2 linked regions of the Homo sapiens genome follow. Changing the gene in region 2 together with the main gene of any one other region gives a genetic interaction. Each region holds a gene or a part of one and is shown on either strand. Other genes may lie near its edges.

Region 1 (3,827 bases), on a different chromosome or scaffold from region 2:
TGTTAAAAACACAAAAAAATTAGCCAGGCATGGTGGTGCATGCCTGTAATCCCAGCTACTGGGGAGGCTGAGGCAGGAGAATCGCTTAAACCCAGGAGTCGGAGGTTGCAGCGAGCTGAGATCATGCCACTGCACTCTAGCCTGGGCGACAAGAGTGAGATTCTGTCTCAAAAAAAAAAAAATTGTATTGAAAGCTTTATTGAAATATTAAACAAACACAAGCTAGAGCAACCAGATAAGAGAAAGAAATAGAGGGCATCCAAACTGGCAAGGAAGATGTTAAATGATCCTTGTTTGCAGACGATATAATCTTATATTTGGAAAAACCTAGATTCCACCAAAAAACTATTAGAACTGATTAAACAAATTCAGTAAAGTGGCAGGATATGGGCCGGGCGCGGTGGCTCAAGCCTGTAATCCCAGCACTTTGGGAGGCTGAGGCAGGTGGATCATGAGGTCAGAAGATCGAGACCATCCTGGCTAACATGGTGAAACCCTATCTCTACTAAAAATACAAAAAACTAGCCGGGTGTGGTGGCGGGCGCCTGTAGTCCCAGCTACTCTGGAGGCTGAGGCAGGAGAATGGCATGAACCCGGGAGGCGGAGCTTGCAGTGAGCCGAGATCGTGCAACTGCACTCCAGCCTGGGTGACAGAGCGAGACTCCATCTCAAAAAAAGACTCCATCTCAAAAAAAAAAAAAAAAAAAAAAGTTGCAGGATATGGAATCAACATACAAAAATCAGTAGCATTTCTATATGCCAACAGTGAATCATCTGTAAAAGAAATAAAACACACACAGATACTGTGTGCAACTTCTTAAAAGTTATTGTTAAGTCTTCCAGAAAGGATGTGGAAACCACTTCAACAGGCTTTTGCAATCATATATATAAAAAGCCTGTGGTTAGCTTTTGTGGCAAATTGTAGCTTCTGTTTAGTTATATACTGACAGGAGTGACTTCACTTTTTTTCATATAATTGGTTTTATTCTGCTTTTATCTATTTTGGTGCTTCAGCTCTACATTTTGCACCCTGGAGCAACTTCTGCAGGGTGTGGGAGTTTGTTTTATTTTTACATTAACATGGAGTAAAACTGGCTTCTGGGGCACGCACATCTGTGAATGTTGACACATGTAGAGATGTGTGTAACTACCACCACTCTCAGGATACAGGGCAGCTCCACTCCCAACGCACTCCCTCCCCTAATCCCTGGCAACCTATTTTCCACTGCTATGGCTTTGTCTTTTTAAGAATGTCATATTAAACGCCAGGTGCAGTGGCTCACGCCTGTAATCCCAGCACTTTAGGAGGCCAAGAGGGGCTCATCACTTGAGGCCAGGAATTTGAGACCAGCCTGGCCAATGTGGCGAAACCCTGTCTCTACTGAAAATACAAAAATCAGCCGGGCGTGGTGGCGCACACCTGTAATTCCAGCTACTCAAGAGGCTGAGGCACGAGAATCACCTGAACCTGAGAGGCAGAGGTTGCCATGAGCCGAGATTGCACACCACTGCACTCCAGCCTGGGCGACGGAGTGAGACTCTGTCTCCAAACAAAACAAAACAAAACAAAACAATGTCACACAATGTCACATAAATGAAATGATGCAGTAAACATGACCTCCTGAGACTGGCTTCTTTCACTCAACATTATGTCTCTAAGACTCATCCAAGTTGTTAGCCTGTGTGCATCAACAGTCTCTCTCTCTCTTTCATAGAGTAATATACCATTGTTCGGATGTAGTAAAGTTTGTTTATCCATTCATCCACTGAAGGACATTTGGGCTGTTTCGTTTCTTATAACTATGAAGAAATATGCTATAAACATTCATGTACAGGTTTTTGTATGAATGTAACTTTTCATTTATCCAGGGTAAATACCTAGGAGTGACAGGGCTGGCTCATATGGTAAGTATATGTTTAACTTTATAAGAACCTGCCAAACTGTTTTCCAGAGCAGCTGAACCATTTGCATTTCCAATGTTGAGTTCCGGCTGCTCCACGTCCTTGCCACCATGTGGTATTGTCTTTTTCTGAATTTAGATATTCTAAGAGGTGGGTAGTGGTAGCTCATCGTGACTTTAATCTGCACTTCCTAACGGCTAACGACACTGAGTATCTTTCACGTGTTTATTTGGCACCAACTCATCCTCTTTGGTGAAGTGCAAGTTTTTTGCCTATTTTTAAATTAGGTTATTTTCTTAACTATTGTGTTCTGAGAGTTCTTTTTATTTGTAACTTAGCATTTCACTCAGTAGTGTCTTTTGCAGAGCAAAGGTTTTAGTTTAGATGAAGTCCATTTAATCCATTTTTTCTCTTTCATGGTTCATGCTTTTGGAGTCATGTTTAAGAACTCTCTGTCCAGTCCCAAGTTACAAAGAGCACCTATGTTTTTTTCTAAAAGTTTTATAGTTTTATATTTTACATTTAGATCTGTGATCCATTTTGAATTAATTTCTGTGTAAGGTAGGAAGGAGGTTTAGGTCCATTTTTTTTTTCATTCCAATATCCAATCATTCCAACACCATTTGTTGAAAAGACTAGCTTTTCTCCATTGAATTGTGTGGGTCTACTTCTAGACTCTATTCTGTTCCTGTGATCGATGTGTCTACCCCTCCACCAATACTACATTCTTGATTACTGTAGCTTTATAGTAAGTCTTTAAATTGGCTAGTGTGAGTCTCCTTATCTTCTTGCTCTTTTTCAAAATTGTTTTGGCTATTTGAGTTCCTTTGCCTTTTCATATAAATTTTAGAATCAGCTTACTTATATCCACAAGTCTTGTTGGGATTTTTATTGGAACTGCTTTAAATCTACAGATCAATTTGGGGAAAGTAGACATTGTCACTATGTTGAGTCTTCTAATCCATTAACATGGTGTGTCTCTACACTTATTTATGTCTTCACTGGGTGACTTTTATTTATTTATTTTTATTAACACAATTTTACTACAAGGTCTGAAAAGCTACTAACGCCTTCTAATAGCCTTTGAAAATAGACAGTATAACCAAACCCTACTAATGGAAATGAAAAAAAAAAGGAAGATGAAATGGCAGTAAGTGCTAGCTGAGCCAAGTATGTCACAACTAAATTAAAAAAAAAAAAAAGTAGAAATGGCAACAATTCTGCTCAGCTCCTCATGACACCAGGCTTAAATTTAACACTTTCAGTACAAGCAACGCCAAAAGAAAAACTGCTGACCTGGCACAGTGGCTCACGCCTGTAATCCCAGCACTTGGGGAGGCTGAGGCAGGTGGATCACTTGAGGTCAGGAGTTTGAGACTAGCCTGGGCAATGTGGCAAAATCCTGTCTCTACTAAAAATACAAAAATTAGCCAGGCGTGGTGGTGCGCACCTGTAATTCCAACTACTCAGGAGGCTGAGGCAGGAGAATCACTTGAATGCAGGAGGTGGAGGTTGCAGTGAGCTGAGATCACACCACTGCACTCCAGCCTGGATGACAGAGTGAGACTCAGTCTCAAAAAGAAGAAGAAAAACGGCTTCACAGTAACACAAAATTGGGTCTAGTTCTAATCTTGAACTGTTTCATTTTAAAGCAAAATTAATGCCTCTCTTAACATAAATGGGAACTTAGGTCTTCCGGACCCACATATGATATTATGTGATTACAGTACATTAAATCACTACATACATTCTTTCAATAAATATCTGCTGAGCATTTGCAACAGTCTGGCAGTATTCTGGGTACTGCGGACACAGAAGAGAAAACAGAGAGGCTCCTTATTTGAAGCCTCCCTTCTAGGGAGAGAGAGAATTCAAACACACAATACAATAATAAGGCAATCTCAGACAGCGCTACGTGCTAGGAA
Region 2 (3,827 bases):
CTGAAAACCACACACATTTATAGAAAGAAACCAAAGTTTCACAGGGAAGACCTGTGATCTCTGGCTACAGGAGCTGAAATTAGGAACATGAAAGAAACTTGAAGAGAGAAGACATTCAATACTCTAAAATACTTCAGCAAAAATAGTCAAACATCCGTAAACAACTTGTAACAAATCTTTATATGTTGTGTTGCTATGCGGTAAATATTCTTAACTGATTATTATTCAACTCAAAAAAGTGATTTTTATTGCTCACGAATACTTCCCTCTAGATTAGATAAAAGCTTGCTTTCTTTTCCTGGAGTCAAGAGTAAAATGTAATTAATGTAATTAGGGCTTACTCAGTGATTGTTTTTGAATTTCTTAGACTGGGGCATTCCAGCCACTTGCTTGGCTGTTTGCAATTTTCACCCAAAAAACGGTCAAAATAAATTGTAAAACCAGAACGAATAAGTTTGGCTCCTTGTTAACATTTTTATTTGCAGGATGGATGAGGAAACTGATGAAACTGGCTGTGGATTTTAATTATCCCTGGTATCTTTTTCTCCCATCTCCAAGGATCATCAGGACTTAAAAGCATGAAATTGACAACACAACTACTTAAAAACAGAGTAAGGCTGAACTGTACTCAATGTCCAGGGCAACTACAGTACTGAAAATCTCAAGGAACTTACTGTAAACAAACAAGCAACTGTTCAACAGCCTCTTGCATTTGGTACCATGACTAAAATCTACTATTTTCTTCCATTTACCTATCTGGATATTTTTATGAAATGACTACATGTAAAAACCATAATAAAATTTCCCTTAAATGTGTTATAATACAGCAAAACACATCAATGACTATAAATAAAATCTGAAATCTCGAATGCTAAATCCTAATGGAAACATCAAGCCTTAGCATTCACGCTTGGATATCTCGTGCTGAGATAAAAGGCCTCTTTAAAGTGACTAGGTCCCTTTCAGTGGAGTGACAGATGTACATACAAGCAACAATGCTATGGAGGAGTCATGCTTTATCCTAGTCTACAGTTATTTTCTCTGCCAATTTTATTTTACTATTACTATGCTGAATCCAATATCTGTTTCAGCTAGGTAATCAAATTTGGGAACAATTAACACTCCTTTTATTTAAATTAAATGACAGAAGACATTTATTTCCAGGAAGCTTTCTAAAATAGCTTTTGAAGAAGCTAAAAATAACAGTTTAGTATTCACCTGTATTGCTTGTATACACAAGGAATTCATTACAAAACTCAGTGGTAGGAGGAAAAAATAATGGAAGAAAAAGTTACCTGCTTTAGCATTTTAAAGAATAGTTTTGATAACTTCTTAGATCTTGCTTATCTGAAATAGAGCAAAAACTACAATACAGTCATGATAGAATTCTAATAATCACAGCAATTAATGCTTTCATTTTGAACTTTTTCTTCATAAAACATTAATGCTATAAAAATCAGACTGATGACATCCTTATTTAAAAGACATCTTGTACTGGTATCAAAATGTGACTTATTTTAACACCAACTGAAAAAATATAGAGTTTGTATAGTCTATTATTTCAGTGTCATTTTATTATTAAAGTTATTCTGAAGGTTTTGGTAGCAAAATTACTGTTAACAATATAAATACTCTGTAAGTGTTGAAATTCTCTTGAAAGTGTTGAAAGGCGGCAGGCATTCTAGAACGGGATTGTAAGGAAAATCAAATATTCCAATATCCAGGATAATTAGGACACTTGTTGAATTTATATTTGCTTCTTTAACTTCCTTCTGATTTGCCTGGTTTATTTCTCATTTGGTATCATAAAAAGAAATCTAAGTCCAAGCTTTTTTTAGCTGGAGTAATTACTTCCATTTTCCATTATTTTTCTTCATTTTTTTTTTTTCAAATACATGAGAAAACAATCCAAGAATCACTGCAGGAAGAAATGATCATTTAAGCTCAATCATGTTCTTTTGCCTTTTAATTTCATTTAAGAGATTAATATTAGAGTCATAAAAGCTTTACAGTTTCAACACACATACACACAATCACAGAATTAAAAATCTTTACTCCTTAAAAAAAAATGAGTTCCATTTTGTTCAATGTATCACAATCAAATTTTAGTCTAACAAAATCCGGTAAAACTGCTTTCATTAAATAGAGCAGCTGCCACTTACCTTTACATATTTTACGGATGGAACTGAGTTCAGTACTGATCCAAGGATGCTGGCATCAAAGCCCTTACACGGAACTATCCCTAAAGGTTCCGTATTTCCGTAATATACCACCAATCACTCTAAATTTATAATACCCTGTCTTTAACTTGGTATATACCATCTTTTGGGAAAAAAATTATTAATATTTTGAGATGAGATACAAGAATAAAGTCATTCTTGAGGTTCCACCTCTAATATGAAAAAATGGACGCTGTTTGCACATAGCAGCTAGTTTGATACCTCCTGTTCTGTTAGGCTAGCCTTCACACAATGAGCATGCATATACAGCCACAGTTCACTGCATCTGTTTTGAAGTTGCAAAGTGCTGCTCATTCAAGTCACAGATGCTACCATGTTATGCAATGAAACAGTAAAATTGTATGTCCACCATGAGAAAAGGAAAATAAACAATGAAAAAAATGCAGCAAATATAGGCAGTTGGCATTCAGAACACGCCAAAAAGCTAACACTCATGAATCGTCATTATAAGGTTTTCCTTTCCTTAAAAAAAAAGTCTTTCTTTGCATATTTCAAAATGTAACGGTCCCAGAGAATCATGAAGTGCCTTGTCGTTTCTGCTGCTGACTTCTGATGACCTCTAGTTGTTTTTTGCATTGCTGGTAGTAAGTAGAAAGGCTTTTGTTTTCATCTAAAAGCTTTTTATGTTCCTGTACCAGGCGAGATGTATTTTGCTGGTCCTTTTCATCCTGGTCCAGTTCTGCAACTAGTTCTTGCCTACAAACAAATACCACATAATATTACACATGATGGAAAAATTCATACCTTAGTAGCTGATGATGGAAGCTCAATTAATGAGAATTTTTATTCTTGGTTTATCATTTTGCATCTTAGGTACACTAATCAAATATAATTATGGGCTGGGATGGAACTCTCATCTACTTCTAGTGTAATCATACAAATAACATAATCCTTTTATTAAGTAACTGTACTTGGATAATTAGCGAAGCAGATAAAATGGTAAAATAAAAGTTTCAGAAAATTTCATTTTCTATCCTCTTTTTGTGTAGGAAGGATGAAAAAAGGCTGGGAAGGGTTCTATGTGGCTATGGGAAAATATCATGAAGTTTTTATCCTTCACATTCTACTTTTATACTGATTCACATTCTGAAGTCACAATCCTACTTAACTATAGCAGAGAGTGGTAAGCTAATAGCAAATTTGCAATCTAATTAAAATAAATGCTATCCAATTTAAAGCTTTTTCCCATTTTAAAGCAGTGAGAAAAATGACAAAGTACCACTTCTTTTAAAACACTTACATTTGCAAGCACTTTCAGGAAAGACCCTCATTCTTTTATAGTCTGATAAACTTATTTAAGTCCCTCTTATTTGGGAACTATTAAGTATTCCCGAAAAAGATGCATCTTTAGGCATTTCCTAAAGTGAGGTTACTGGATATAAATGAATAATTAATAAAAAGTCCTCAAGCAAAATAACTAACTAATACTACTTCTGAAAGTATTTAAAATTGATTAAAACTGTCATAGTTTTCACAGCCAACACCCTAATCCACCATTTGTTTTTTCCAGCATAGAATACTTCTTTCAAATGATTAAAGTATGGCAAAAGTATAGGTTAAATAAGTGAAATAAGAAATCAAGCTTTT

What was found.
Region 1: of MAP3K7 (region 2) and TAB1, changing one enhances a phenotype caused by changing the other (phenotypic enhancement), as found in Homo sapiens cells (one study listed by BioGRID).

Annotation. Positions count from the first base shown.
Region 1 is NC_000022.11:39,409,776-39,413,602, reverse strand, and holds part of TAB1 (TGF-beta-activated kinase 1 and MAP3K7-binding protein 1), read right to left. Parts: intron 1-3,827. UniProt on the Homo sapiens protein: Key adapter protein that plays an essential role in JNK and NF-kappa-B activation and proinflammatory cytokines production in response to stimulation with TLRs and cytokines.
Region 2 is NC_000006.12:90,513,746-90,517,572, forward strand, and holds part of MAP3K7 (mitogen-activated protein kinase kinase kinase 7), read right to left. Parts: intron 2,937-3,827; coding exon 2,756-2,936; 3' UTR 1-2,755. UniProt on the Homo sapiens protein: Serine/threonine kinase which acts as an essential component of the MAP kinase signal transduction pathway. Plays an important role in the cascades of cellular responses evoked by changes in the environment.